Linked DNA regions of Homo sapiens: all the other regions are linked to region 1. Evidence: fine-mapped expression QTL. A gene starts in region 1. Each other region holds a variant in brackets. All regions are shown on one strand. Distances are from middle to middle.

Region 1 (7,643 bases):
TCCACTGGGGTGACACAAACATGACAGATGGCACTCTCATAGACAAGGAGTTTATTCTGCGACACAGTGAGAGCTATATATTTTGCTATAAAACTCTTATAAATCACTCATATATTCTGGGTAGAATCACCATGACACAAGAGAGATAAATGTTATTTAATACATGTGAACAGTTGAAATTTGTGAACCGCAAGAGCATAGATTCATATGTATCAGTGAATCATAAATATAGATTTCATTTTGAGGTTTTGATGTAAACATACAGTATTAATAAACAAAGTTAATGACTTTCTAGAAAATAAAGGTTTCTTATATGGTGGAGGAATAAATATTGAATAATCAGTAAATTGAAGAATTTACAAACTTTGTGCATCAAAAACACTTTAACAATTTAAAAAGTAAACTATGATAATCTAAGAAATAATTATAGCTATAAAAGGACAAAACAAGCACGTACGGATTTATCAATAAATCCATAAGTTAAAGGGAAGCTATTAAGATAAATAAAGAGATAACCAAGGGGAAAACATTAGCATTAGAATGGCGTCCAACCTAGGCTAGAAAGAAAACACATGAATAGGTACAGACAAGATCAAGAATGTGATCTTACGCTTATCACACTGGGAATGCAATGTCAGTCTTCGGCAAACTAGTCATATGGAAATCTTGTATCTTTGTATAGTAGAGGAAGAATTATAAGCTCTTCTACTTTTTCTTTTTTTTTTTTTTTTTACTTTTTTTCTTATTACAAATTATACATATTCATCATAGAACACACAGATATGTCAAAAGAAGGGTAAAAGACCATCTGCGGTCATCTATAGTTCAGAAATATACTTAGATCGTAATCATAATCTTTTAAAAAATTTAATGGCATACTATGAAAATTATTCAATAAAATTGTAAATTATTCTGTAATATAGTAAAAGCCAATAATAGCATCAAAGATGATTTCGAGCTGAAGTAAACCCTAGGTTACTTAGTCTGACCTTTATAACAATCCCTTCATAATCTCTGCAAATGACTGTGAGTACTTTTCTTGACCACTTCATTGACCTATATCAAAATCTCCAAATCATCACTTTGCCAGGAAATTCTTTCAATTTCCGAAAGCTTTAATTTTGAGAAGTCTTTTGCTATCCTGATTTTTGCCTACCCTTATTTTCTCTCCAGAACAGCACTGGGTTTCGGGTCCACTTCAACTTATTCCCATCCTCTGGCATCGTAACTGTGACTACATCAGGGTGACTTTACTATACAAACTCTTTTAATCTCTAAAATTAGCCTAGTAGCATTTATCTTACATTCCTCATAGAGTTGTTTAAAAAAATCAAGAAAGAAAATGTTTATAAAAATGACAATACATTTGAAGCATTATCTGAATAATAAACATATTTCCTCTTTTACCTTTACTGTTTGAAAATGTTATCATTTTCACCTCAGTTCCTACTCCAAGATGCCTGATTCTCTCTTGCATCTCTTATAAATTATAATATTCAGAATCATCATCTTATCAACTCCTTTGGATACATGCCAATTTGTGAATATCTCCTGTAAAAAGTGCCACACTGAACTAAGCAGGATGATCCTGATGTGGCTGAATAAGTGGAAAATAAAATGATTGTTCTGTCATGAATCTGCCCGGCTGTCCGCTGCTGTGCATGCTGAGATGCAAGCGTTTTTATTATTACGGATGTCTGTGTCATTTATAAAGGATTTAAGAAATGTCTTTGAAAAACTCTTTTAAAGGTAGCAAAATGACGAAAAGACTAAATATAGAATAATAAACACTGACGATTTATTTTCCCTTAACCACACAACTGATGGGGTATAGATGTCCTTTAAATCATCCAGTTTTGCTCTTCATTAACTGAAGGACAGAGGGCTTGAATTATTATCTAAAATGAAGTTTAAGATAGATCTGTGACTTTAAGTCACCCATGATTTCACTTACACTGTCTTTTCAGTGCTATGAAGAGCTATAATGAGCCCTGAAAATAACAAGCACAAAATACAATGATCTACTTGGTTTTCTCAGTAACTGTTTCTCTCTTTTCTAGAAAGGCAATTCGAAGGCAAATTATTGGTAACTTATCTGAAAATAACATGACCCGTTCTGAAATAACATAAATGACTATTTACCAAGTTGGACAGATGATTTCATGAATTGTTAGCTCTTCTGTGCAAAGGCAGGCAGGAATGAGAGTCAGCTGTGTTAACCCTTTGCTTTCCTTTGAGTCAAACAGTTTGTATGAACAAACAGGGCAGTCATCCACTCTCCCAGCTCTATTTGCTGTCTGCCTTCAGCAAGTCACTTTATCATTCCTCCACTCTGTTTCTCCACCTGGAAAATCTGGAATATCATACCTATAACTCCTTTTTTTTTCGAAGACTGTTGAGATCTTTAGAAGAAATACATTCTACACTTTCAAAGATTTATGACAGTATTTTGTTTTTAGCTGCCTACCTAAAGAAAGGGAATGAACTGGAGTTGTTGAAGCAATAAGGATATGCCATTTGAGGTTAGACTGTGGTTAGCAGGAACCAACTGCTAAACGTGGTTTTGTTTTGTATTTCCTTTGTCAATTTCAGCTGATTTCAGGCAGGCCCATTCTGAGAATAAGGCTGCATTTCACAATTCCTGTAATGTGCCCACGTAAGAAAGAAGGCAGGTAGTCTGTTTGGTGATAGTATATTTCAAGAACTAATTGTTATTTCCTGTGAATTTGCAACCCAATGTGCTGTGAGTTGAGTTGGAACTAGAATATCAAATACCAAATAGCATACAAAAGGGATAACACTGCAAAAAAAAAATTCAAGTCAAAAATCAAAACAGAGCTCAGAGATTTCAGAAGCAATGGCTTCTTGTCAAGAATAACTGTCATTAAAATTTCCATAAGCACCAGTGAAATTGATTTTGGGGAAAAGTCTAAGGGAGGGTCTGTTTTATAAGACACACTGAAACTTTATTTTATTCTGAATTTCCCCAGCCAAGTTTGTAAGATCTCAGATTTTTCTTGGGCCCTTTCCCTGCCAAGGGGCCAAAGGTTTATCTCTATTGACACATACAGATAAAAAATTTTCATCCAGGAACCTCTATCAGCAGAGTCTGAATAGTCGTCTTTGGCTGGTGAATCACACTAAGGGAGTCTCAGTCCTGAGATGATCAGTGGTGAGAAGTTCAAAAAATAATGAAAAGAGCAAGCACTTAGGCGTCACAATACGCTTCTGGTATAACGCACCAAGCCGATGGAGCACAAGAATTGGTCTGGCGTCATTGTTTTATGTTCTCTGGATGTTGAAGAGTCTGATTTGCATTAGAAACCTCTGCATTCAATAAACAAAAATCAGGATAATAATGACCAAAGTACTATTTGGAACAGAAAACAAATTCAAGCAATGGGTGTTTTGCACTGAATTCATTCAAGATTTTATTAGTTAAGCTCTCACTTAGGTTATTAGGCTCAGCTTGCTTTTTATTTCACTGGCCTCAGTTACTGCAAACAAAAGGAGCCTGGTGTGTGTGTGTGTGTGTGTGTGTGTGTGTGTGTAAGCGCACGTGTATGAGAATGTCAGACATATCACACACAGGCTTTCTACATTCTTCACATTGGAAACCCATCAGCAAAAGGAAGAAGATCTGAAGGGAATGAGTGTTTTTTTTTTGTTTTTTGTTTTTTTCTGGTTTAGGGGATGGAGGGAGAATTTCTCTACATAAACAAGAAGGTTAGAATTGGAAGTCTGCTAAAAAAAATGTTAGAGCTGACCACAGGGTTGTAAATCCACTGACTGGAAGGAGGAAAAGAGAAACATTGCAAGCGACTGAAGTGTGTGGTGTGGCTGCAATGTTTGTGGGTTAGATGAGAAACAAGCGCTGAGTGAAACAGAGAAGGGGGGTGGCTGGTGTGATTTGTTTGGTGTTCAGAGCCAATAGAAATCCCAGACTCTGATAATATCCCCATGCAGCGCCGAGAGGATTCAGAGCTAAGTCTCCGGGCTCCTTTCACATCTGCAGGAGCAGCCAGCCTGGGACCGCGCGGCGCGGGGCGCGCTCTCGCCTCTCCTGCACCCTCAGCCGGCGCGCTTCTCTTATGGGCGTCTGCTGCAGTCTGGCTGCGGTCGAACTGAAAGCGGCGGCGGGAGACCAAACTTAGACCCCGCTGTGGACTAGAGAACTCAGAGAAGGCAGAGGGAGAGGGAGAGAGAGAGAGAGAAGGGACCCGAGGAGGAGGCTTCCATCACGTCATTGCAGGTACGCAGCTTGTCACGACTAACGTGACACAGACACGGTTTCTGATTTCTACCTTCACCAGGCACTTAGAATGAATTGACGTTGTTTGTTCCGTGGCTGGTCAGGACCGAAAGCCCTGAGTGGACGTCTCGCCGGTTTCACCCCGGGTAATTCAAGCTGTTGGCGTGTGTCTGGGGGCCACAAGGTTTATTCACCTATTGAATTATGCGTGGGTGTAACATAAGGACCTTCAAACTTGACCGTGATCGCTCTTTCTTTCTCTTTTAAATAACGTCAATACCAATATGTTGTCATCCCACCAATAAATACCTCTTGGTGACCGCCATTCTAATCATGACTATAGCGAGGCAAACACCATCCAATTGTTAGAAAGCGGGCTACGAACCTCTCCCACCTACCTACCAGGTTAATATCCTCCCTACAGGAATAGGAACCACAGCGGACTTCGGCAGAGTTTTGATTTTTTAAAGCATATGGCCAAGGTGCACCCGCCTCATGAGGGAAATATCACTATTATCACTACGCTGTGGTTGAAGGAGAAGAGAGAAGGGAGGTAGTTATTTTTTAACGTGATTGTCAGTGATCCTTCCTGTGTACCTGACTTATTTCTACATTGTCTTACGAGTTTAAAAATGCATTTGTATTCTGCACGCCAGGCACGTTCAGTTCCAGGATCTCACATATTACTACATTAAAAAGTCATGAATTGGAACTATCTAGTAGATGTGATAGTTGTAAGAAAATATTGATGTTTGATTTTATTTTATTTGATCCTAAAACTCATAAACTTCTATTTCTTTTTTTTTTTTATTTTGAGGTGTGGGTTTTGTTAAAAAAATCTATTTCCTGAGATTTTATCATGTTTGATTTGAAATTTTAAAGATAGTTATATAACTCCCCACCCCTTGATGACTTGTGATTAAATTAGCATTGCTTAATGAGTTCAGTCTTTCCTGGGAAAAGCCAGAGGGGACTGCAAGAAGTCAGTTAAAAAATTGGTCTTGCTTTGCAGTCTTCAAGGGCTGGCTGGTATTCATGTGGCTCTGAATCCCTATGAAAAGCGCTTTTTCTGCAGTGGAACAGATTGGGACTCCAGTACAGCCAGAGAATGGCTCTGCAGCAGGTGCAGGGGCAATCAAATACCTTACCTTTCGTCTAAACAGCACTCTTCCCAGTGGAGTCTTAGTCGATCATATCCAAACCATTCACTGATAATTCGCAATCGACTCACCATTCAGCCGTGCTTAGCTTTCAAGGTAGCCTTTGTCCCAAGACATGTGCCCGACCAAGGAAGATAAGAAAGTTATAAGAAAGGTATTTGTGTTGTATATCACAGTGGAGAATTTATATCGACCTTTTTTTGTTTGTTTGTTTTTTGTTTCTTATCAGATGAACATGTTCTTTCTGTCATTAAAGGAAATGCATGCTTAGCTCTACCATAGAGTCAGGAAAACTTCATAGTTTTTGCCCATCGACTGATCTGAATGATTTAACTGGGTGCTTTTTGAAATCGTGTCAAAGTATAGACATGGCAAGTGAATATTATATTTGGGAGAAGGCATTTTAACTTTATAGATAAATTTTTTTTCCTTTTACATCAGAAAGAAACTGTAAAGAACTGATCTGTGCAAATAAATATAAGTTAATCGACCCAACTACATTCTATTGGTAAAGAGTTGTTTTGTATGATTGTGAGCATTTGTCAATCTTTTATAAATAAAATAGCTGCAATAAGTTGGGACCTATTTCTGTCTTATCTTTCTAACTCTAAAGCAATGTTGGGTGTGTTGGTAGCAACTTTGTGAGTGTGAGACGGATTATATTCACTTTGTATAGACTAGGAGACACTGATGGCTTTTCAAAGATAAATATAAACAATGCTGTGATTATTCATTGTTTTTTGCTATCATTCTTCACCGAGAGAGGTAATCAACAGTTCATTCTCTATGAATCTTAGTAGAGCCAGCCAGAGCTTTACATACCCTCGAGTTATAAGTTTGGTAAAGTTTAAACAAGGTACATGCCTTTAAATCTCTTTAAAGTAAACATCTCTTTTTCTAATGCAAAGGAATGGTATTAGACTCTCAGTTCTTATTGATATGGAGAGGATTGGCCTGTCTGGGTCAAGGGCAGACACTGAGAGACTGCAGAGGCACAGGCACTCAACAGATTAGTTCAGCCACTTTTGTACTTCAGTGTTGCTACAGCAATTGCCCCTGTGCAACGTGCCAGGTTGCAGGCATGTTCTCAGTATCAGGGTCCTTCAAATATCTACGGACAAAAAAGAATTATTTCAACCAGGGAAAACGTGCCCAGCACTCGGCTTAAATGGGTCACACAAGACATTGTTTTGAAGGACAAGGTGTTCAATTAAAAATTAGACCTATGGTGCCATCTTCTTCTTGGATTAGCTGCTTCTTGATAGTTCTTTTGTTTCTAATAATATTAGGTATAATAGGCCTAATAATGTCTAGAATTAATTTTGATCACATGTCAGGCTAAAATGTGGTCCTCAGACTCAACACTGACCAATGACTTGAGCAGATTTCCCATCACCACCACTTCCAGTTGGAAAGATGTCTTTAAGTGGCCAGCACATTGATGGGACCCAGACGGTGTTGGCGCACTGATTTGTAGAACAGAGTCCCAGAGCCACATGGATGTTAAGGGGATGGAACGTGAGCGGGTGGAAGCACAAGGGTATAAAGTGACATGATATAAAGATTGACATGCTTCAGTATAAATCCTGGAGCCAAAGGAAAATGAAAATGAATGTATTTCCTCTAATTACCTTCAGATATAGATTTTTGATTAGCTTCAAGTATACATTTTTGATGAGACATCCTGAATATTTTAAATAAACTCTCTTGTGTTCTTAGGTATATCCCACACAGGTGTGGGGGGAAAATAAATGCATTTGATGTACTGTAACACTCCTGTCTATACAGGCCAGGAGAGGGCAGCATGCAAACTCTGAAAAAGTGATTTGATACCTCCCCCTGACCATGAGGAAGACTCCGGTCGCCAAATGGCTAAAAAATCTCCCTCCAACTTGAAGTGCCCTCTTCCCTTTGGAGAGCCAACTCTAGAGTCTTAGTAAAGGCACACCATCCAGAAGGGTTTGTTTCTATTTTGGCCTCCAGAATTGGTGCTACCTGGCAAAATCAGAAAAGCAGCAGCATATTTCACAGTGAACTCAATTTCCCTTTCTTTTAATTAGCTTTACCCTTTGAGCCTATTCAAGCAGGGGAACACTTGACCAGCTCCTATGAAATGCTAAGTTGACTTCGTCTAGAACAAACATTGTCTGCATTAAAAATATTATTCAACCTGGCTCTATAGGTGTGACTGTAAAGGCTGAGAGGAAGCTAATCTTATCATCTATGGAAAA
Region 2 (7,643 bases), 40 kb before region 1:
GAAAAAGTAGAGTTCCTTGGTAGTCCCATGCTGCCCAGAAATGATCACTGTTCAAAATTCGTATAGTATTTCTATGAACTTTCTTCTAGGCAAATGCATATGTGTGTCTAAGTATGTACACACAGACACACACATATATGAGACTTTCCTATAAGGGCTTCTGTGCAATCTGCTTTTCTCATTTATTTAACAACATATTGTTTAAATATCTCATGATGCATATAGCTACCCGATTCATTGAAAGAGCTTCACTCTATTCTATTATTTAGAAATGGTTACCAAACTTGGCCGGGCGCAGTGGCTCACGCCTGTAATCCCAGCACTTTGGGAGGCTGAGGTGGGCGGATCATGAGGTCAGGAAATGGAGACCATCCTGGCTCACATGGTGAAACCCTGTCTCTACTAAAAATACAAAAAATTAGCCGAGCGTGGTGGTGGGCGCCTGCAGTACCAGCTACTTGGGAGGCTGAAGCAAGAGAATGGCGTGAACCTGGGAGGCTGAGCTTGCAGTGAGACGAGATTGTGCCACTGTACTCCAGCCTGGGTGACAGAGCAAGACTCCGTCTCAAAAAAACAAAAAAAGAAACAATAAAAGGAAAAAGAAATGGTTACCAAACTTAAATAGCATTTCAAGAGCAAAATAAAGTTAATGAAGGGTGGAACAACATGCAAATCTGAAACTACCTATATTGTGTATCTCTAGTGCATTTGTTCTCTAGTGTCCATCTGTGTACCCTACAGCTAGTTGGCTCAAGAAGCAGATACTTTCAGATGAAATTTTCCCAGAGCAGAAAAAAAATTAAAAACCTTAGTTGGACCATCGATTGCTGGAGTCAGAAGTAGACCCGCAGTTGCTCCTCAATCTTGCTTTGCACACTGGCAATGTCTCACCCACTCCCAACATCCCAACTCCTCTGTCCTGGGGCTCGTTCCCATGGTACATTATATTCTTTTACACCAGGAGCATCCTACAGAGAGTTGCCTACCTAAGAAGCGGCAGCCTGATGCTGATGAAAATCCAGCTATGGCTCACAACTGAATAAACTGTTTATCTGTTCCTGTTGTGTGATACAGTCACTACATACTCTAGAAAATAATCTCTCTCTCTCTCTTTCTTTTTTTTTTTTAGGCCCATGACATAGTTTTACTGCAGCTCCAATCTGACTCTACCCTACTCACACTCTATTCTCAGGGGTTTGGGGAAGACCACCCCACTAGGGGCCCTGTCCCCACCAGAGCTTGGACATGGGATCTCTCTCAAGCAGGGGACTTTGTCCTTCTTGGAGGCTTCCTGTCTCTCTCAGGACTGTACGTGCTCTGAGCTGGGCTCGGCTGACACTTGGCTGTTCCTTCAGTCTTGGCCCTGAGGCCATGACAATCCGGGAAGTTCCGGCTGTCCATGTCAGTGGGGCCTGGGGATGTGGCAGTCCACGTAGAAGTTCCTGGCGTTCTAGGGCAGACTGAATTCTGCCCCTTCCAGCTCCAGCATCAGCACGATCTGCCAGCCCAGCAGGGAGTTCTCCTGGAGGAGGGAGGCCATGTCTAGCATGCTGTCTTCCCTCTCTTCGGGAGGAGGCAGAAGGTCCAGGTCTTCGCTCACATGCACATGGCAGGTGGAGCATGCCAGGAAGGCTTCACAGGCACCTTCCAGGTTCACCCCATGGCATTGGGTCAGGTGGAGAATATTGTCCTCCGACTCTGCAGCTCACTGGATCCGCCAGCCTGACAGGTCTACAAACACCACGTTCACCACATCCCTGGGCATGTCAGCCTGTCTCCTGAAATGTCCTGGTTGTCACTGGCGCCTACGCCTCCCTGGACCCTAAAGAGCTCCTGGGTATGTTACACAAGGTGTCCCTGGCAGCCCACAGCAGAACCCTGGCACTCATTCTTCCCCGGCCCTCGGAGGCGGCCATGACAGGTGTCGGGTGAACCAGTCAGACAATTATCTCTCTTATCTTTCATCATGGCTCACCAAAAGGGAATTTTTTCTCAAAGTATATATCCAGTTTTTTATGTCTGACCATTATAAATAAATCTTCCAAATTTGATGAAAAAGTTATCTAGTCGTTTTCAAGTTAAATCATAATCACAAAAAAAGAAAAAAATAGAGCAAAACATGATGTCATTTACATAGATCGGGAGTCTGCAAATTAGAGCCATGGTTCAAATTCAGCCCATTGCCTGTTTTTATAAATAAAGTTGTTTTTTTTTGTTTTGTTTTGTTTTGTTTTTTTTTGAGACAGAGTCTTGCTCTGTTACACAGGCTGGAGTACAGTAGAGCAATCTTGGCTCACTGTAATCTCCTCCTCCCAGGTTCAAGCAATTCTCTTGCCTCAGCCCCCCAAGTAGCTGGGATTACAGGCATGTGCCGCCACACCCGGCTAAGTTTTGTATTTTTAGTAGAGACAGGGTTTCGCCATGTTGGCCAGGCTGGTCGTGAACTCCTGACCTCAGGGGATCCACCTGCCTCAGCCTCCCAAAGTGCTGGGATTACAGGCATGAGCCACTGCGCCTGCCCTAAATAAAGTTTTTTTAAAAAACTTTTTATTAGCCCTGCCTAAGCAAGACCTCAAAAAATTTGGTTATCAACTCACACTGTTCCTCTCCATGGAAACTTCTAGTAAATGGCAAAAAACTTATTCATTCTAAAGAATGAGCATATAAATAAAGTTTTATTGGAACACAGCCACACACATTGATTTATGTATTGTCTATGGCTACTTTCACCCTATAATGGCCAAGTTGAGAAGTTGCAGCAGAGATCATATGGCCTTCAAAGCTTAAAATATTTACTATGTGGCCCATTAGAGAATGTTTGCCAACCCCTGATATAAATCAATACTCAAGAATCTTTCAAGTAATTTGATATGTTTTCTCTGCTAGAGTCCCATTTTGTTTCATAGAGACACAGTGCCTTATGTCAACAAAATGTCCCAGTGGTAAGAATTCTTAGAAGAGCAGCTCTTCAGTGAGACTGGTCTTTCTCTTCGGGGACAGTGATATGTTTCTCTGCCTCCTCCGGTGATATCCCTCTAAGCGATGCCTTCTCCCCTTCATGCATCCTTAGCACGACAACGACACTTGCCAAGAGTCCTACGATGCTACTCAGCAATTTCTCTCCCTGCTTACCAGAAAGGAAGAAAGAAATTC[C/A]AGAAAACAAATTAAGAAAGAAAATGTGGGTGGAGGACGGATGACTTACTGGTATCTCCTCCACCCATCCTGTCTCCTGTCCCTACTCCGATCACCAGTGAGACGCCTGAGGTGTGGGAGGGGCTGTCAACAAAAGCGTGAGTGCCTGCAGATGTGGGTGTGTGCCTTTGAAAGTGAGACTGTTGGAGAATGGCCCTGTGCTCAAAGGAGAGAGAATTTGTCCCCCGGGACAGAGAGCATCTGTAGGAAATTACAAACTTGAGGTCACGTGTATTTAAGAGTGAGAAACTCAGTGTGGAAGAGACTTCGACAGAGTGAGTGATAGAGATGTGAATGTACCCAGGACAGTGAGCGTGTGAGACAGTGAAGAAGGCAGGGATGAATATGTGTCCCAGAAAGACACCACATGTGTGACTGTGTGTGTGAACAAACAGAGAAGGAAAATAAATGAAATTCATGAGGAGGGATACAAAATATGGATGAGACTGAGATTCTTTCCAGCAAGAGGGGATTTATACATATATGATGTCACTTTGGTGTGACTACATTGCATGTCAATCCAGTACCACCAACAAGAAATTCAATCTTAATCCGACTCCTCTGGGTTGTAAAGCATAGTAGAAGTGGAAGACAAGATGGTTAACTATCTTGTGAAATCAACTATCTCACAAAATATGTGTTCTTCTAGTGTTTTGTTGAGATTTCGATTCCACCAATTATAATGTATTGTAATCACCAATTAACCACTTATTTCACTTGTATTTCCCACTTCATTCTGGGTCTCCCACACAATGTTTGATGCATGGTTTATAATCATTAAATATTTGCTGAATGAACATATTAATCAGTGAAATAGGTTAGCTCTAAATTGAAAATTACAACTCCTGCCATCGATATGCAGGTAAAAAAGACAGCTGCTCATAGGCTACTTCCGTAATCCCTTCAATGAGACCCAAACTGATAGCAAGGATCATGGTTATTGTCATTGCCACAATTGAAAGACAATGATATATGTGCACCAGTCTTCACTACAATCTTTTTAAACACTTTTTTAAAAAGTTTTGGTATTTAAATAACTTTTTGTTTGTTTGTTGTTGTTGTCGAGACAGGGTCTCCCTGTGTTGGTAGGGCTGGTCTCAAACTCCTGGGCTCAAGCAATCCTCCCACCTCAGCCTCCCAAAGTTCTGGGACTGCAGGCTTGAGTCACCATGCCTGGCGAACATACTCCTAGAACAACAAAGTATTAGAACTGGCTCATGATCAGCCAGGTCCCCAGTTGTGGAGAAAAAGTATTCTCTCTCAGGACCTGAATATCAACCCTTGTGGGAGAAGCTTATGTCTGGAGTTGGATTTCACTCAGATAAGACATGGCAGAGCTGACTATTCCCCAGCAGCAACCCAAGTCTAAGCATTTGCCTCTGCTGTAGCTAAGGGATAGATGGACATTTCTGTTAAGTTGAACTATTCCCCAAAACAGAATAAGCATATCCTGCCCAAAGGGAAGTTCATAACATCAAGACCATCTCAAGGGTTGGATTTGGGTGCAGACAATGAACCTGAGAACCATACAGTTTTAGAGCTTCAAAGCTTCTTAGAGAGAGATGACCAAATGTTCCAGTTTCTCCAGGATAGTCCCAGTTTATGCCTTTTGTCTTGGTGTAATTTCAAAGGCAGCCACTTTCACTCTAGAAAGTTAATTATATGGTCAACCTGCTCAGAAATGATCTAATGCTCACTTTACATAACAGATGCTTGTAACCTGGAGCAGTGAAGTGTCTCACCCAGTCACATAGCTAGTGGGACTGTGTGCCCATTCACTGTGGGATTTTCACCATTGCAAGTGGTAACAAAACTTTTCTTTTTGCAGAAAACTCAGGAGAAAGCCTTCACCTCCCTATCATGTAATTCTCTAATGACATGAATAAAAACAGAAGGAAACTGTCTTAGAGACATTCACTTTCCTAAGGCTTAAACTATGGAAGGATTTCTTCATTCATAAAGGAAATGCATACGTTTAGAGAAAACATTTCAATCGGAAAAAAGGGTCCAGATTCAGGCCTCAAGAGAGGGTTCATGGATCTCTCGCAGGAAGGAATTCAAAGTGAGTTGCAGAGTACAGTGAGAAGAGATAGTTTACTGAAAGCTACTCAGTTACAGAGCGAGAATGTCCTCAGAAAGCAAGACGAGGAATGCACCATCTTTGTTTTAAACTCTTCTTATATAGGGATCTTATCTATGTAAAAGCTAAGCTGTGTCTACATGCGGGTGAGCCGAAAAAATGACATTTATTACTTTGTTGATTTAAAGAAAGTTATCCTTGGCATTTTAGTGCGTAAGTACATCAAAGCATGACTATAGTCACCTTAAAAGCACATATCGTTTTGCAATATTGGGACATCTGGGCATTTTGTTGTCACAGGAGTTTGTCCTTGCAGGCGTTATTAAGCTGTTTCCTTGGTGGTAAACATCTTACGGCCGTGGGTCGTGACTGGCAAGGAATGCGTCTTACTAGTTTTAAGATGGAATTGATTTGAAAATGATGTCACCCTGGCTCTCCTATGTCCCTGTTTCCCTAACAATTCCACCATCATATTGGCCTCATCTCAAGTACAACTCAAAATCCTTGATTGTGGGTATACCGAGGGGTGGTGAATTTCAGCTTACGCTTACGCTGCTGGGTAAAGTCCAGCCAGGATTGTGCCTATTCCTGGCATGGGGATAGGAGATGGGTGTTGTGGCTACAAGGTCAGCACTAATTTGCTGACATATGATGAATCTGTACACTGCATTAGACATTAGACATTTATGGACATTTAAAAAAGTATTTGTATAAAACACTTTCCATTCCTTGCTACATAATGTTTTGGATCCTAAAACAACTCAGTGCAGAGGTCAAATTTTGGAGTTCAGCAAAGGCTGCAGTAATCTTACGCAATACATGGGACCTTCACTGACGAAAGAGCTATTGGGTAATTTCATGATATGATGACCTACCTCTCACGTACCCAATCTGTCACCTCCTCTCTTCCCTCTCTGTCCTACCTTGGCTCAGGCTTTGTCACTTTTTATATGGTTGTCACTTGGCTCCATTCTAATGCACCCTGGAGACCACTACAATCTCTGTTACTTACTAGATGAAAAATCCTTTAATAATTCTCCATTGTCTATAAGATGAAAGTCAGGCCGGATGTAACGGCTCAAACCTGTAATCCTAGCTTTTTGGGAGGACAAGGCAGGAGCTGAAAAGTCCGAGACCGGCCTGGGCAACAGGGCAAAACCCTGTCTCTACAAAAAATACAAAAATTAGCCAGCGTGGTGGCACACTCCTGTGGCCCCAGCTATTCAGGAGGCTGATTGGGGGGATCCCTTCACCCTGGGAGTTCAAGGCTGCAGTGAGCCATATTGCGTCACTGTGCTCTAGCCTGGGCAACAGAGGAGACCCTTTTTCAAAAGAAAAAAACTGAAGAAATGAATATGTGAAAGAGTGAATTAATTCATGAAAGAATAAAACTCATAGCATGGTGCAATGAAAGCTGGCGGTTATTGTACCTGCCTATCCACAAAGCTTTCTCATGGCTTACAGAGTAGGAATGTGACACAGGGATGGCCAATCAAAATGCCCCTTTCCCATCGTCATGTGATTCAACTAGGGTGGTCTGTGACTGAAGCCACAGAAATCAGATCTCCACCCTTGTATTTTTTCTTTTTTTTTTTTGAGACAAAGTTTTGCTCTTGTTGCCCAGGCTGGAGTGCAATGCCACAATCTTGGCTCACTGCAACCTCTGCCTCCCATGTTCAAGCGATTCTCCTGCCTCAGCCTCCCGAGTAGCTGGGATTACAGGCATGTGCCACCACGCCTGGCTAATTTTGTATTTTTAGTGAGACAGGGTTTCTCCATGTTGGTCAGGCTGTTCTCGAACTCCCGACCTCAGGTGATCCACCCGCCTCAGTCTCCCAAAGTGCTGGGATTACAGGCGTGAGCCACCGCACCCGGCCTGCCCTTGTATTTTTTGTTTGGAGCTGTACAAGAGGCAATTTCGCCTCTGAAATCACAATAACAGAGGACTATAAAGTTGGGGCTGTCTGGTGAGTTGACTTATAGTTACAGCACTTTAGGGGGCCAAGGTGGGAGGATCGCTTGAGCTCAGGAGTTTGAGACAAGCCTGGGCAACATAGTGAGACTTTGTCTCAAATAAAATATAAACTAATAAAATATTAAAAATAAAACAAACAAAATAAAAAAGGTGGGGCTACAGGCAAAGACTTGCATATTAGAAGAGAATACAAATAAGCAAAGGAAAGAAAGTAAAAGAAATAGATGGCAGTTTGGAGTATGAGAGCCACTGAATCCCTATTACACCCTCTCTCAGGGTTCTCTTGATACCTTGAACTGCCTCAGTGTGTGCCAAGCTAAATGATTCTCCCCTCCCCTTACTTTCCTAAAGCTTGAGAGTTTCTGTTTTGTTTTGTTTTGTTTTCCCGAAGGATGC
Region 3 (7,643 bases), 75 kb after region 1:
TCAGGAGGCTGAGGCAGGAGAATCTCTTGAACCCAGGAGGCAGAGGTTGCTGTAAGTCTACATCGTGCCACTGCACTCCAAACTGGCGACAGAGTGAGACTCCATCTCAAAAAAAAAAAAAAGAAGTACCATTCTTCTTTTGACTTACATGCTGTTTGTGTTCTTTGCTGTTAATGGTAGTGATTCCAGTCTTACTAGAACACAATCTCTCAGTTCAGTTTTAAATCAATATGTGCTCTAGGAAACAGCCCATTCAAGGACAAATCCCCTGATCCTGTTTTGTTTGTTTTCTTGGTCCTAGCCATGTTTTTCTCCCTTCTTCACTTGGCAGCAATTGAAGGACTCACGATGTTCCTTTATGCCCCCTTTTGGAGAAGGAGCTCTTCAATGCAATAAGTTAGTCTAGACAAAGAAAATTAGGGCAATTAGTAGAAAGCTAGCAAATGTGCTGTGTAGGAGGCTCTGTCATTACGGACCCTCACTCAGGCTCCTGTGGTTTGGTGTGTGTACAGAATGATAGTTCTGGGTTTCCTCTCTGCAGAGAGGAATAAAATAATACTAGGTTTCAATTAAAGACATAACTGCAATTTAGTCAGGGGTATAGGAACAGAGTGGCTGTCAGCTATGCCAAGCTAATGTCATAAGACAGAAAATCTCAGCACATAGCAAGGGATCCTGAGGCATCTGAGTTACCGCAGCCCTCATACTCAATAAGACACCAAGACTAGCAATTAGAATGCAGACAGAACAAATATTTACATTTTGAGAAAACAAAAGAGGAGGCATCAACAACAGAATGAATCAAAAGCCACAAGGTCTCAGATGTGGGCAAGCAAAGTGTTGCTGTCAGTGTGAAGCAGGAAGGCAGAATTGGTTTCCAGTATTTGCAATTCAGAGATGTAGATTACTGGAAAATTTACAATAACATTGCAGTTTAAAATCTCCACTTCATCCGTGTTACCCAGAGTTGAACATGAGGAGTCAATTGCCCTTTTCCTCCTTCTACCTACTATTAGCTCCAAGTCATTTCTTCATGTGTATATGGATTATGAGTTCCAGAGAGCCTGGATACGTTATTTCGAGGCTTTCAAAGTCCCAGAAATGCTTATGCATTTTAAAAACTGTATTTCAACTCAGAAATCTCTTTTGTTAAGAAGCCTGATGTTCTGAATGATCAGAGGGTATAGTAAAATCTAATAACAGAAGAAAAATTAGGGCTCTGGGAAGGGGCTGTCCAGGAAGGGAAAGAGATGTGTGGCTCCCCTCTCATCTCAAAGTAGTAGGTACACATTTTCCTCTTTTGTTTAATTTTAGATGGGTCACTCATGCAAGCTCATGGAGTGGATCCTGAGTAGGGGATAAAATCCTGGCTGGTTGGGCACATCATAGCAAAGAGACTTGTCACCACCAGGAAGACCACAAGCCAGCCATTATAACTGCAGCGAGGCAGGGTTTTGACCAATTTGGCATGTGTAGGGCTTTTATAAGAAATCCATAAGGGATGGTAAGTAAGAATGGAATGATGGGGGCCTGGCTAGTGAGGAAAAGTTGCTCAGTGCACAAGGCTTGGCTTTAACATGGCAAATGATGCTGACTTTCCCCTTCCTAATGTCTCTAATTCTGAAATTCTATAAGCATGAGATGGTGTCTCAGCCCTTTTTGATCTACATCAACCCATGGTGGATGTCTGCCATGTACTTGGCATCAGTACTTGGGAAAATGACTTGGCTGCCAATTATCTGATGCTGTTATTTCATTTCTAAAATGCAATATCTAGAAATTGTTCATTTGAGAGACATTTCAAAGCATTTGTAGCCAATGTGCCAAGTTTCTGATTCATTTTGGGAGAGACACCCACACGTAGTATTTCACTCAATTTAATATTTTGTAAATAATTGGTATTAGTCGAGTACATACAGTTTACCAAACATGGTTCTAAAAAGTTTTTTGTTGTTTGTTTGTTTGTTTTTGACAGTATCTGGCTATGTCGCCCAGGCTGGAGGGTAGTGAGTGGCACGATCTTGGCTCACTGCAACCTCCGCCTCCTGAACTCAAGTGATCCTCCCACCTCAGTCTCCCAAGTCGCTGGGACTATAGGCACACACCACCATGCCTGGTTAATTTTTGTATTATTATTATTATTTTTTTTTGGAGAGACAAAGGTCTCACTATGTTGCCCAGGCTGGTCTCAAACTCCTGAGCTCAAGTGATTCACCCACCTCCACTTGCCAAAGTGCTGGGATTACAGGCGTGAGCCATCGCACCTGGCCTCTAGAAAGTCTTTACATGTCTTTAATACAAATGCAGGCAGGTGAAATCACTGGATGATTCCATGGTGTTTTAAACCTTTTCCCAGGTTACTGAAAGGGTTGGCATTGTTAGAGAAGCAATCAATCACGAAGGAGCTAAGAAGAAAGTTTAAAAAGGGTAAAAAGTGTGAGTCAAGACAAAGCCACCAGTCATAGCATTTGAGGGGTGCATCTAACCTGAACTCCTGAACGTTTTAGGTTAGCTTATAGATAATAAGAGTAACTAAATTTAAGATCAGCGTGGTCAAGAAATTTTGCTTTCTAGACAATCCTACTTTGACTTGTTCCTCTATTTATTGACTGTCATTACTTTGAATTCTATTGTTTCAAACATGAAATTTAACGAGCTTCAGTGTTTCTTTAGTTTTAATAAAGCAAAACTCGGGTTTTTTAAATGGGCATGGCATTCTGCCAATCATTTTCAGGGTTCAAGATCTGAAGCAAGGTTCTACAGGACATTATGAAAGTTATTGTTTAAATAATGGATATTTTGCATGGTATGTATGATTAATATATTATATTTGTATAAAAGAGTAATATACCTTCACTTTTTGCAGGGCTTACTCAGTGTTTTTGTTTGTTTGTTTGTTTGTTTTTGAGACAGAGCCTTGCCATATTGCCAGGCTGGAGTGCAGTGGCGCCATCTCGGCTCACTGCAACCTCCGCCTCCTGGATTCAAGTGATTCTCCTGCCTCAGCCTCCCGAGTAGCTGGGATTACAGGCACGCGCCACCATGCTCGGCTAACTTTTGTATTTTTAGTAGACATGGGGTTTCACCATGTTGGCCAGGATGGTCTTGATCTCTTGACCTCAGGTGATCCACCCACCTCGGCCTCCCAAAGTGCTGGGATTACAGCCACCGTGCCCGGCCTGAACTCCTTTTGTTGTTTCTTTAGGCATCAACTCCTTTCCCCCTCTTTTTTTGTCAGTGCTGTTTTTTGCATCTACTACACTTCTTAAGTGTCCATCTCTGTGTTCTCTGGGTAGACAACTTCAGAGAACAGAGAGGCTACCAGGCAGGAATTCCTTGCTCCTTAAAACTCATCTCCCTCCACAACTAACTATATTTTTCTCTTTATTTTCTATCTCAAAGAAAGATAACTAATTTTGTCCAGCATTTTCTTTCCTTCCTCTACTTTTACATTTCCCCTATATTTTGCTTTTGTTTATTTAGTTATTTGTTTGCTCACAGTGTTTAAATATATTCAAATAGCTTCCATTTCAAGTTTAAAATTTTTAAAGGTAAAGGAAGGGAGGCAAGGAGGCTACAGGTCTATTCTGGCTTCTGGGGAAAAAAATCTGTATTTAATTTATCTTACTACAGCACAACTAAAAGTGCTTTCACTAATGTATCTAAGTCTTAGGAATTAATTGGTCATTCCAGTTTATCTTCTTTAGTATGTCAGCATCTCACTTTGGTCAGAATTTAGTTGCTTAGTATTCTTGCTTTGCTTGGATTCTGTGGTACTCCTCCTTCCAAACCTCCCTGTCTTCTTTGAAGGTTTGTTATCTTCTGTTCAGCCCAAATAGCAGTTTTCTTCAAGATCCAACATTTGCCTCTTTTAAATCTCACATTATGCATCAGAGACCTTATCCCCATGCACGTAGCTACCGATGGCTTCCAGATCTACAGCCCCCACTGCCATTTTGTCTTAAACTCTACAGATGGCTTCCAGATCTACAGCCCCCGCTGCCATTTTGTCTTAAACTCTACAGATGGCTTCCAGATCTACAGCCCCCGCTGCCATTTTGTCTTAAACTCTACAGATGGCTTCCAGATCTACAGCCCCCGCTGCCATTTTGTCTTAAACTCCTGACCCATATTTTTCACATGTCATGTTTCCCCATCCGAGGAACAATTACCAA[T/C]CCCCCTCTTGGACTGAGAAAATCAAATTGCCCAGGTATGAATAGCAACTGCTTATCCCTCTTCATACCAATTTACCCTTCCATCCCTGCACATTTTCTTTAGGGTTAGAGACAAATTAACCATTGGCCAATTCAAGGTCACTGCATCCCCCTGTGTGCTTGGCTGCATGACCCTTTCTTCCCATTTAATTATCAGACCTTACTTCAGGATTTGTTATATTCCCTTACTCATATGTTTTAAACCTCACACTTTCAGCTATGTGTTCGTCCTTAGCTTTAAAAATATATTTAAATATATCCCATCCAAATAAGTAAGTGAATGAATAATACATTATCTCCATTGGAGCTGCCTTCCTTCTAACTGCCATAATTGAGGGCTTTTTTTCTTAATCAAATTTCTTGAAATTGAAGGTACTGTGGTTCCAGTTCCTCTTGTCTTACCAGTCTTCAGCTCCTTGCAAGTTGGCTTCTGTGACACCTGCTCCAGTGAAACCTGCTTGCAGTCAGGTCCTACGTGTTCCCAAACTCAGAGGGCTCACTTCAGTCTTTATCTTACTCCACTTGACTCAGCTGACACTGGCTCATTCCCTACTTCTTGGGATCGTCTTTCTGTTGGTTTTCATGGGAGACTTGACTAGGCTTGTCTTTCTCTCTTTTTACTCAGGGTATCTGGTATAAATATTTCTTTCTCTTTTTTCTTTCTTTTTTTTTTTTTTGCGATGGAGTCTCCCTTTATCATCTAGGCTGGAGTGCAATGGCACAATCTCGGCTCACTGCAACCTCCACCTCCCAGGTTCAAGCAATTCTCCTGCCTCAGCCTCCTGAGTAACTGGGATTACAGGCATGCACCGTGACACCTGGCTAATTCTTGTATTTTTAGTAGAGACAGGGTTTCACCAGTTGGCCAGGTTGGTCTCAAACTCCTGACCTCAAGTGATCCCCCTGCCTCGGCCTCCCAAAATGTGGGGATTACAGGCATGAGCCACTGTGCCTGGCCAATATTTCTTTCTCACATTCGTCCTTTAAACATTGGTTTACCAAGGATGTCATTCTTGGCTTTTTAAAATTTTTTTTCACAATCTCTCCTTTGTACTATCTTTCTTCTTTACAAACTCAAAGAAATGTTGTAGTTAAAAAACAAAAACAAACACAAAACTGGTTTTGAGAACCTGAACAAAGCTCAGCTCTCCACTCACTTTTACTAACAACACAACTATGGATAAGTTGCATAATCTCTTTAAGTATTAGTTATCACCTCTGTAAAGGGAAGTGTTCATATCAACTCAGATTGTTATCGTGGGTATAATGGATATAACATACACAGTAATGTAAAGTATTACTCAATGCCTATACTAAGTGCTCACAACTATAATTTTATTATTATTGTCTTTATAATTATATTTAACTAATAGCTCTATGTTATAGACTCAAATCTATCATCTTACACAGAGTCCTCTCTTGGAGTTCAGATTTATATAATAACTACTAGATGTCTCTACTCAGATATACCTCAATGATCAACATACAGAAACAGACAGATCATCTCTCCCTTCCTCTCCAGACCCACTCGTCCTGCTGTGTTTCTTCCCTCAGTTGGTAGCTAAGTATCTGGCGTCACCAAATTTTCGAAACCCAAAGGTTCTAGCTTCCTCAACATGTTTCTGTCCCTTCTTCCCGCCCATACACCAATGCCTTGTTCAGGCCCTCACTTTTTCCTACCAGGGTGATTGCAGTAGCCTCCTAACTAGTCTCCTGCATTTTAGCTTTTCCTCATTTCAGTTCATCTTCCATAGTATTGCATTTTTTTTTTTTTTTTTTTTTTGAGATGGAGTCTCGCTCTGTCGCCCAGGCTGGAGTGCAGTGGCAAGATCTCAGCTCACTGCAAGCTCCACTTCCTGGGTTCAAGTGATTCTCCTGCCTCAGCCTCCCGGAGTAGCTGGGACTACAGGCGCCCGCCACCATGCCCAGCTAATTTTTTTTTGTATTTTTAGTAGAGACAGGGTTTCACCGTGTTAGCCAGGATGGTCTCAATCTCCTGACCTCGTGATCTGCCCGCCTCAGCCTCCCAAAGTGCTGGGATTACAGGCGTGAGCCACTGCACCCGGCCTTTTGCACTCTCTTAACTGCAGATGTGATGTCTCTCTTAGAGCAGAACCCTTTCAGGGTTCCTCATAATTGACATAAAATCCAATCTATTGAGTAGCACATATGTAGATTTCTCCATGACCTTGTCCCTGCCTTCCCTTTTATGTTTCAGTGAAAACTGATTGTTTTTCTCACATTTTGTATGCTCTATTTTTTTGCTCATGCTGTCCTCCTCCCTGAGATGCCTCACACCTCTCTTCCTGAATTGTCCATCATCTGCACTTTCTTCAAGATCTTTCTCAGGTTTGTCCCTGCTTCCTTATTCAACACCATAAGGTTAAGCTAATTTCAATTTCAGGACTAGCCCATTCATAACTATTTTGGTGCATTTTCCACGTTTGATTCAAGTTATCTGTTTGCAACTCTGCCTTTCCAACAAATACATATCAACCAAAAGTAGCACCAGGTCTTACCTTACATATTTAATAGTAGTAACATTTTTCCATGTGAACTAAACGTCACAGGCAACTCAAAAATGACATGCTCCTGATGGAATTGAGGCTCTCGTCACAATCGTCCCCTCTTTCTGTAGACTAGTTTCCCAATAATGGAAGCAGTCACCATCCATTCTATCAGCCAAATCAGAAACCCTGGAGGCACAGCCAATGGTATCTCAATATCTGTTCAACCACCAAAATCCTTTCTGTCTTGCCCACCCATCCTCCAAATATCTCTCAGATCCAACTGCTCCTCTATCCCAATTGTTGATTCTTTCTTTGACTTTGTGGGAGGCTGTGTGTACTGCTAGATGCCAATCACTTTGTCCTACTTCTACACAGAGCCACCTACTCCCCTTGTCCCAGTTGTGCCTCCTCAGTGCTTCTGATGGGACTTTCTTATTACATAAATATATTATGCTTAAAATTCTCAAAGGACTCCCTCGTTTCTTCAGGATAGAGTTCTATAACATTAGCATGAGATACCAAGGGCTTCTCAACTGTAGAGTTTTCCAGATTCAGCTCCAAGTATTTATCATGCCTTGTGTGCTTTAGCTACAGAGACCTACTTTCAATTCTCAGAACATGCAATGCCCTCACAGACCGCTAAACTGATCTGTTCTCTTTGGCTAGAATGCCTTTCCTTTTCCCAACCTTTTCACAGCTAGCTCATTTCTATTAGTTCTTTAAGGGCCAATTCAGATATTCCTCCACTTTTCATTATTCTCATAGGAAGTGATTTTCATTTTCCCAGTCTCTACTCCCAGATCCCCCTTCTTCACACCTCAGGCATACCTGTCTCATACATCTCATAATGCTGACTACATTGTGTTCCTTTTCCTGTCCAACTCCTCTACAAAATGCTGAGTTCTTTGTGGGTAGTTTC
Region 4 (7,643 bases), 76 kb before region 1:
GATTAAGAAGTAGTTCAAGTGAGCAGACAACTTGAATTCCATTGAGCCTAATCTATATTTATTTTCCCTCCATAGTTACAATATGGAAAACATAATCACGTAAGTGTAAAGGAAAGTATATTCTACGTCCTGAAAAATCACTGTGGTTCATTCACGCTGGGAAAGGTGGCCGCTTTTCTGACATGAATCCGTAGCTGCATTATCATGGGGGTTTCCTGGGTAAAGAGGAGGCTGCCGGTCTCTTGCTTCCCCCACTTTTCCATTTTTTCCTCTTTTGCAGCCAGCCATGGTCCCATGCTTGCTAGCAACAGAAAGTACAGCAGATGGCAGCAAGCAGCTGCTGCATTTTCCAAACCTTGGTCAGCAACTGTTTTCAAGCCAGCACAAGGCAGGTTGAATGGAGGCAAAGATGGATGTGGATTTGTTAAGAGTCCCCCGTCCTCCATCTCTTGTTCTGTCTCTACCTTTCTGCCCTGCCCAGTGATGAGCAAACACCTCATTTCACAGAAGCAGAGCAAACTGGAAACAAGAGGAGGAGACAAAAGCTGGGGCTTGGCGGGACACACTGAACTGGACTCAAGCCTGAAGTGACCTAGTCAGGCGTGGTATCGATGTCGTGGCAGATCTTCCTTGGCCTCCGTGGGCTGTTGAGCAATTTCTTGGACCCACATCTGTGAATGCTAATCCAACACCAAACAATATTTTGCAGAATTATTCCATCCACTTTGCAACTTCCAGCTTTGTAGGGGCTTCACGGGGGCTGCAGGTAGCAGGAAAGACCTGAGGGTGAACTGCGTTGTGCTGAGAGATAAGCCTGGATTTTACCAATTCAGGCTTGGCAGACCACATCAGAGCTGTCAAAAGGCTATGAACTGCTCTGAGCTCCTGCCTTTAAACTTGCCCTGTTTAGTTCAGCTCAGAAGCCTGGAATTTGTGAAGGTAAACAATTCTTATCCCATGGATAAACTGGATAATGCAATTTAAAATACAGACGTATATTCTTCAGACAAACGTAACCGCCCTGACATTAATGGGGCCATTTATCTATGTTGAAGTCAGTAAGCCATAAGCACTGTCAGTGATGTGGGGATTTGGGGATTTGATTAGTTTTGGGTTTCCAGTGGCTTAACAGGAACAGAGGGTGCGAGGTGAGGTAGCTGGTCTTATCTTCTTGAGTTATTAGATAACTTGTGTTCTTTCTCCTTTGTGCTAAAACCTAAAAGGTAAATTTGTTCTTTTGTGTTTTCCATAATTCAACAGATTGTTAACCTGGTTTATTTTTCATAACCAGCAAATTGTACCTATGCTGATCATTCAGTTTTGTGGTCAAATATTACAAAGCTGGGTTATGTAAGCTTATATTTTTCATGAAATCAGCCCTATAAGAAATTAGGATTACAGGTCCTAACACTTTTTTCTTTTTGAAACGGAGTCTCGCTTTGTCGCCCAGGCTGGAGTGCGGTGGTGGGATCTCAGCTCACTGCAAGCTCCGCCTCCTGGGTTCACACCATTCTCCTGCCTCAGCCTCCCAAGTAGCTGGGACTACAGGTGCCCGCCACCACGCCCGGCTAAAGTTTTATATTTTTAGTAGAGTTTCACTGTGTTAGCCAGGATGGTCTCGATCTCCTGACCTCGTGATCCGCCCGCCTCAGCCTCCCAAAGTGCTGGGATTACAGGTGTGAGCCTCCGTGCCCAGCCTACAGGTCCTAACACTTTAACTTCCAGAGTTCAAGATTATTAAAGTAACTTCAATACTGGACGGCATTTGTAAGCTTTACGTGCTCCCAGCTGGTTCGTTGACATGGAGTTCAGACTTGCATGCAATCACCCTTGACTATCTTTGGCTGTCCTTTCTCAGAAACAGGGCAATCATCTTAACAAAAACCTGGCCAATAGATTTCCAAATGTTGCGTTCATAGAAAGAACACTGGTTTTGAGAAAAACTTTCACATGTATTTTCTTTTCCCTTCTCTCTCTTTTTTTTTTTTTCAGACAGGGTCTCGCAGTGTTGCATAGGCTGGAGTTCAGCGGCATGCTCACGGCTCACTGCAGCCTTGACCTCTTGGGCTCAAGAGCTCAAGCAGTCCTCCCATCTCAGCCTCCCAAGTAGCTGGAACCACAGGCACATGCCACCACACCCAACTAATTTTTGTATTTTTAGTAGAGGCAGGGTTTCGCCATGTGTCTCAGGCTGGTCTCAAATTCCTGGGCTCAAGGGATCTGCCTACCTCAGCAACCCAAAACACTGGGTTTACAGGCATGAGCCGCCGTGCCCTGCCTCAAATGTATTTTCAAGTGGAGCAAAGTTAAGGGGCTCACAGTCACTTGAAGTTTTAGCAAAACTTGGGAGTAAGCGAGAATGTTCTCTTAAGCAACTGTTCTGCCTCATTGGTGGGATGAGCCATTTGGCTGCCTCTGGTTTCCCACTAGCAAACAGTAACTGATTGGGAAGATGAACAGGATTAGCTAAATGATTAATCTCCATCTGCTCTAATACATAAATTATGAAATCATACTCATCATACCAATTTTTGCCAATTCAAAATGTGAACCCATTGGCAAAAAAAAAAAAAAAAAAGGAAAAGAAAAATTTCCAGTCACCGAGAGATGTTCCACTGTAGTCTTTCAAAATGTTTTTAAAACAGTTTGAAAAATCTTACTTTCAAAGTTTGAATTTTATCCCAGTCCATTGTCCTCCTGCCCGACTGTTGACAAATCATCACCACAGGGGATCTGGTGAGAAAAACATGGGTGGCCCTAGGCTGGTATCTGGCCAAATCAAGTATACATTTGGCGAATATGGCCAGACTGTAGGCTACCTAGGTGGCTTTGTGGTCTCATGTGATCAAAGTCGGGGATAGATTAAGGAGACTAGATCTTTCTTTAGTAGATGGAATATAGCAATTCCAATTACTGACATCCTAAAAGCTTCTCTGGAGATGCAGAGCAAATTCTCTATACATTTAATGTTTTCTACATTAAAGGATATTTTGCTTCCACAACTGAAGTGAATTATGGAAACAAAACCTCCTTTAAGATAAGCCTGAAATTATCATTGTATTTGACAATGGGAGGAAAAAAGCTGAGACGTTTTCAGAATCTACCAGCAATGCATCCCCCAGAGAATACACAATTTGCATGAATCCCCCTGAGCTAGGGAAGCTGAGGATATCTGAAAGAGAAGGGGGAAAATGTATTTTAAAAGCTTCCCAGAAACAGATTAAGAGTTAAGAAAAAGAAAAATCCTGTTAACAACTGGAATGGGCAGACACCGCTCTGCCAGCCTTAAAAGAGTCAGATGAGAGGCCAGACACGGATTTCTGCTTTTCCGAAAGTCACCCAGACATAGACAAGGATAAAGTAAAAACGAGAAATGTAGAACAACATGATCCCTTTATTTTGATAATTTAGAAAATAAAAAGAAATGATTGCAGTGTAGGCAAGCAGCAGAGGCCTAAAACTTCAATACTTTACATGGAAAAGGAGACTGGAGGTGTTTGAAGAAAAAGCAATTTCAATTGCAGTGGCTTTTAACCTTTTGGGAGCATTGAATTGCCTTGAGAATCTGGAAAATGCTATGCATCCTCTTCCCCCGAATACAAATGCATGATTTTCCATTCCATTCATGAAATTTCACTCATAATTATTTTGCACGTATGACAGGTTAATAACTCTTACACAGAATAGAGTTTCTGGCTTTGTTTTGTTTTGTTTTTCATCTTTTTGTTTGGTTTGTTTGGTAATGAGTTTTGCAAACCTTGGGAAGGTAGTGTGAGGCAAGGTTATTGGTGAGGGAAGGTGATTAACTGTGTTCTAAATAAATAGTAGTTA[T/C]GGTGAATCATTTCCCTCCCATCCTACCTCAAAGAAAAAATTTGGATAAATAAAATATGTACGAAATTACAATGACATACCAAGAATGGTGAATTCTTAATGCTCCTCAATGTAAACTGGCATGTAAACACATGGACATTTTTCTTGCATCTCTACTTATTGGTTATATTTGTTTCAATCATTAAGATCTTTGAGACTGGGCGCGATGGCTCATGCCTGTAATCCCAGCACTTTGGGAGGCTGAGGCGGGCGGATCACCTGAGGTAGGGAGTTCAAGACCAGCCTAACCAACATGGAGAAACCCTGTCTCTACTAAAAATACAGACTAGCCGGGCGTGGTGGCGCATGACTGTAATCCCAGCTACTAAGGAGGCTGAGGCAGGAGAATTGCTTGAACCTGGGAGGTGGAGGTTGTAGTGAGCCGAGATTGTGCCATTGCACTCCAGCCTGGGCAACAAGAGTGAAACTCCATCTCAAAAAAAAAAAAAAAAAAAAAAGATCCTTGAAAAGCATCATATCATTCATTGTGTCTTTCTTATGTCTTTTACTTAAGACAGTTACCTGGTGTGGCATGACACAATATCTCCCAGCCTCTAAAATATTATTTCTCAATCATATTTTGCCATAGGAATGATCTTGTCTGGTCACATTCCAGAAGCAGGAGGAAAAAAAAATAGCATTTCTGAAGCCAATGAGTGCCAGTCACTTGAAGATGGTAATCTGAACAGGAAGAGCACTGTGACTTACTACTGTCCTTCAGAGAAAAAGGAAGAGGTGCACGTCACAGACGGGAAGTCAGTGAACCAGAGGCAAAGGTACTGAAACTTTATTTGGCAAATATGAAACATCCGTTGTGCCAAGAGCACAGATCCAGTTTTTGCAAGATGCAAATTTCATGGCAAACAACAAAAGCCTGAAGAACCACTTAGCTAATAACTGACTTCGTACTCAGCATCCCTTTTCTGTTTTTCTGCTGTGACAGGCCTTTATTGAAAGCCAGAATATATAGATCAGTCAAAACCTCAGAACAAAAAGGTAGTGGGCCTGAGCTCAGAATGTCAGGCAATTAATGCACTAGTGTTGGCATCAGCCTCCAAATCCTTGAAAATATAAAATACTTGAACACTCGTCTCTCTTATGAATGAGTTCCCCATCATATATTGGTTTCCTTAATGAAGATCAGAAAGGAGTTTCGGAAAATGATATGCTTAGCCAATTTAACACCAGCTGTTTGATTCTCCAAGTTTCCTTACCCTAAATGACTTTACAACAAAGTCAAGTAGAAACGCCGCTGAACAATCCTGTCATCCTTTCCTCACCCTGGCCGAATGAGGCTTTTTTTGGATTGCAAAAATTGATTAAAATTAAAAGACATCGTTTAATTAATCTTCTGTGCCATGAGACTCCATCAGGCTGTCTACAAAGACCACTGGGAGGCTGAGGATCACTTGAGCCCAGGAGTTTGAGGCTATAGTGAGCCTCAAAGGGTCTCTGCACTGCAGCCTGGGTGACAGAGCGAGACCTGTCACACACACACACACACACACACACACACACAAAGACTTTTAGCCACATTTCCAGATTTCAATGTAAATGGTACTTGGGGAATGCTTTTTGACCCAAGAAAGGAAACTAGGTCTGAGTGTTTATCGTTTGTAGATTGGTGAATAGATTCAGAAAAGCTAATAACACAAATTTGAGAGTGGCATTTTGTGGGCATAGATTTCACATTAAAACTGAGACCAAAAGACTAGTGTCTGTTATCTTGACATTTTGTGGAGTTAAAACTAAGGACAAAGGCTGTTTAGAGAGCACAGCGGTGATCTGTACTTATGAAATTTAGTGACCCTCAGTTGCTTGGCAAAACTACAAAAAAAAATTGTGACCTGCTTTTTATACAGGTGAATAAACAATTCAGGTATCAAACAATGAACCCCTTGATTTCAAAGGACAGTGATGTGTTTGACGATAAGAGACAATTCCTATAATTCTTTTGTATTCCAGTGAAGTTTATAGCATGAACGACTTGTTTTTTTGGTACAATCCTGTACATTAATTGTTACCAGCACGTATCTCGGAGCTCCTGTCCACACAATAGTCATTACTAACACCTGAGTTGATCTGCACAAGGGCACGGATTACACGGGTAAGTGAAATAGCATCCACATTCATCACCGATTTCAGTTATGTCTAAGAATATAGGATCAAATTTTTATGTTCAGACTATAATCAAAAAATATTTCTAGAGGATACTTTGTTACTATACAGGTGTGATAGTAATCAGATTATCTAATGACTATAGGAAGAATTGTGCTTTCAAATTAAGGAACTGGCCTGGGTGTCATGGCCCACGCCTGTAATCCCAGCCCTTTGGGAGGCCAGAGTAGGAAGATCGCTTGAGACCAGGAGTTTGAGGCCAGCCTTGGCAACATAGCAGGACCTCGTCTCTATTTCTAAAAAAATAATTTTTATATACATATTTTATATATATTATATATATTTTTATAATATATATATTTTTAAATTTAGGGACTGGCCCTTAATTTAGCAGTGATGTCATATAAGGGAACAAAAATCACATCATTTGAAGTAGCATAAGAAAAAAAATGGCTCTGCTACTGTTTATAGGAACATTATATATGAGTGTATATATAATATTTAAAAAACATATTAAAATAATGTTTTACGTCTGTAAGTACAGTATATGTTGCTATATGTTATATATATGCACACATATATACAGATTATATTACATGTATATATGTATACATAATATATAATCATGTTATCTGTATATATACATGAAATTATATTATATATAATTTTATCACTGCATTACTTATATCTTGGCAAAATTTTATTGAAATATAACTCACACAAAGTGCATAAATGCTAAGTGCAATACAGAGTTCAGTGAATTTTACAAAGTGAATGCCTCTGTGAAACCACCCCCCAGATCAAGACATAGAATATTAATAACACCTTCAAAACCTTTCTCATGTCTATTCACCTTTACTACCCTATAGAAAAAGACAAGTGTTCCCACATTTTCTATTACCTGGAGAAGATTCTTCCTTAAATGTTAGAAGAATTGGTGAGTAAAAAAATCTGGGCCTAGAATTTTGTCGGGGGAGGGATGGGAGTAGTTTGTGGAAAGGTTTGTCAGATTTTATTTTTCTTCTTATTTTGATTTTATTAAATAATCCTTTTTATTTGAAGAAGTGTGTCCATTTGACAATAACTCTTTAAATTTTGGTGTAAGCTGCTCATTAGATTCTTTTATTAACTGCTTTAATATCTGTAGGTTTTGTGGTAAATCTGTCAATTTGTGTTTTTCTATTTTTATGATATCAGTTTTTCTAGTAATTTATATCTTATTAGAATTTTCAAAGTCAACTTTGGCTTTATTGATTTTCTTTTTATTATGTTTGCTGTTTGATATCTGCTGTTAGCATTATTTCATTTCTTATTTTTCTTTGGGTTTAATTTGCTATCCTTTTTCTAGCTTATTTGATGAATATTAGACTTTTTTTTTTTTTTTTGAGACAGTCTTGCTCTGTTGTCCATGCTGGAATGCAATGGCGTGATCTCGGCTCACTGCAACCTCCACCTCCTAGGGTCAATCAATTCTTCTGCCTCAGCCTCCCAAGTAGCTGGGAATACAGGCACCCACCACCACACCTGGCTAATTTTTGTATTTTTAGTAGAGACCAGGTTTCACCATATTGGCCCAGCTGGTCTCGAACTCCTGACCTTGTGATCCACCCATCACGGCCTCCCAAAGTGCTGGGATTACAGGTGTGAGCCATGGC

Direction of the effects. Positions count from the first base shown, and alleles are read on the strand shown. Sizes are in standard deviations (SD) of each study's normalised expression. Not every link is listed here.
In carriers of allele T in region 3, the expression in anterior cingulate cortex of the gene that starts at base 3,981 in region 1 tends to be higher than with C alone (small effect, 0.26 SD a copy in GTEx).

Evidence for each region.
Region 2: its variant is fine-mapped to the expression of GREM2 in whole blood (TOPMed, PIP 0.94).
Region 3: its variant is fine-mapped to the expression of GREM2 in anterior cingulate cortex (GTEx, PIP 0.94).
Region 4: its variant is fine-mapped to the expression of GREM2 in whole blood (TOPMed, PIP above 0.99). The same link has a PIP of 0.9 or more in blood mononuclear cells.

What each region holds. Positions count from the first base shown.
Region 1 is chr1:240,608,493-240,616,135 of GRCh38, reverse strand. It overlaps GREM2 (gremlin 2, DAN family BMP antagonist), which reads left to right and starts at 3,981. Exons shown (of 2, transcript NM_022469.4): 1 at 3,981-4,252.
Region 2 is chr1:240,648,387-240,656,029 of GRCh38, reverse strand. It overlaps the pseudogene RNU5F-8P and the pseudogene LOC100128958. Among named protein-coding and RNA genes, the nearest start is that of GREM2, 40 kb to the right of the region's middle. The variant C/A (reference allele first, on the strand shown) is at 3,154.
Region 3 is chr1:240,533,047-240,540,689 of GRCh38, reverse strand. All of the region lies in intron 1 of GREM2 (gremlin 2, DAN family BMP antagonist), which reads left to right. Among named protein-coding and RNA genes, the nearest start is that of GREM2, 75 kb to the left of the region's middle. The variant T/C (reference allele first, on the strand shown) is at 4,176.
Region 4 is chr1:240,684,968-240,692,610 of GRCh38, reverse strand. LOC105373228 (a long non-coding RNA gene) reads left to right here. Exons shown (of 4, transcript XR_949320.2): 2 at 4,460-4,646; 3 at 5,836-5,977; 4 at 6,858-6,928. Among named protein-coding and RNA genes, the nearest start is that of GREM2, 77 kb to the right of the region's middle. RefSeq lists a silencer at 188-482. The variant T/C (reference allele first, on the strand shown) is at 3,832.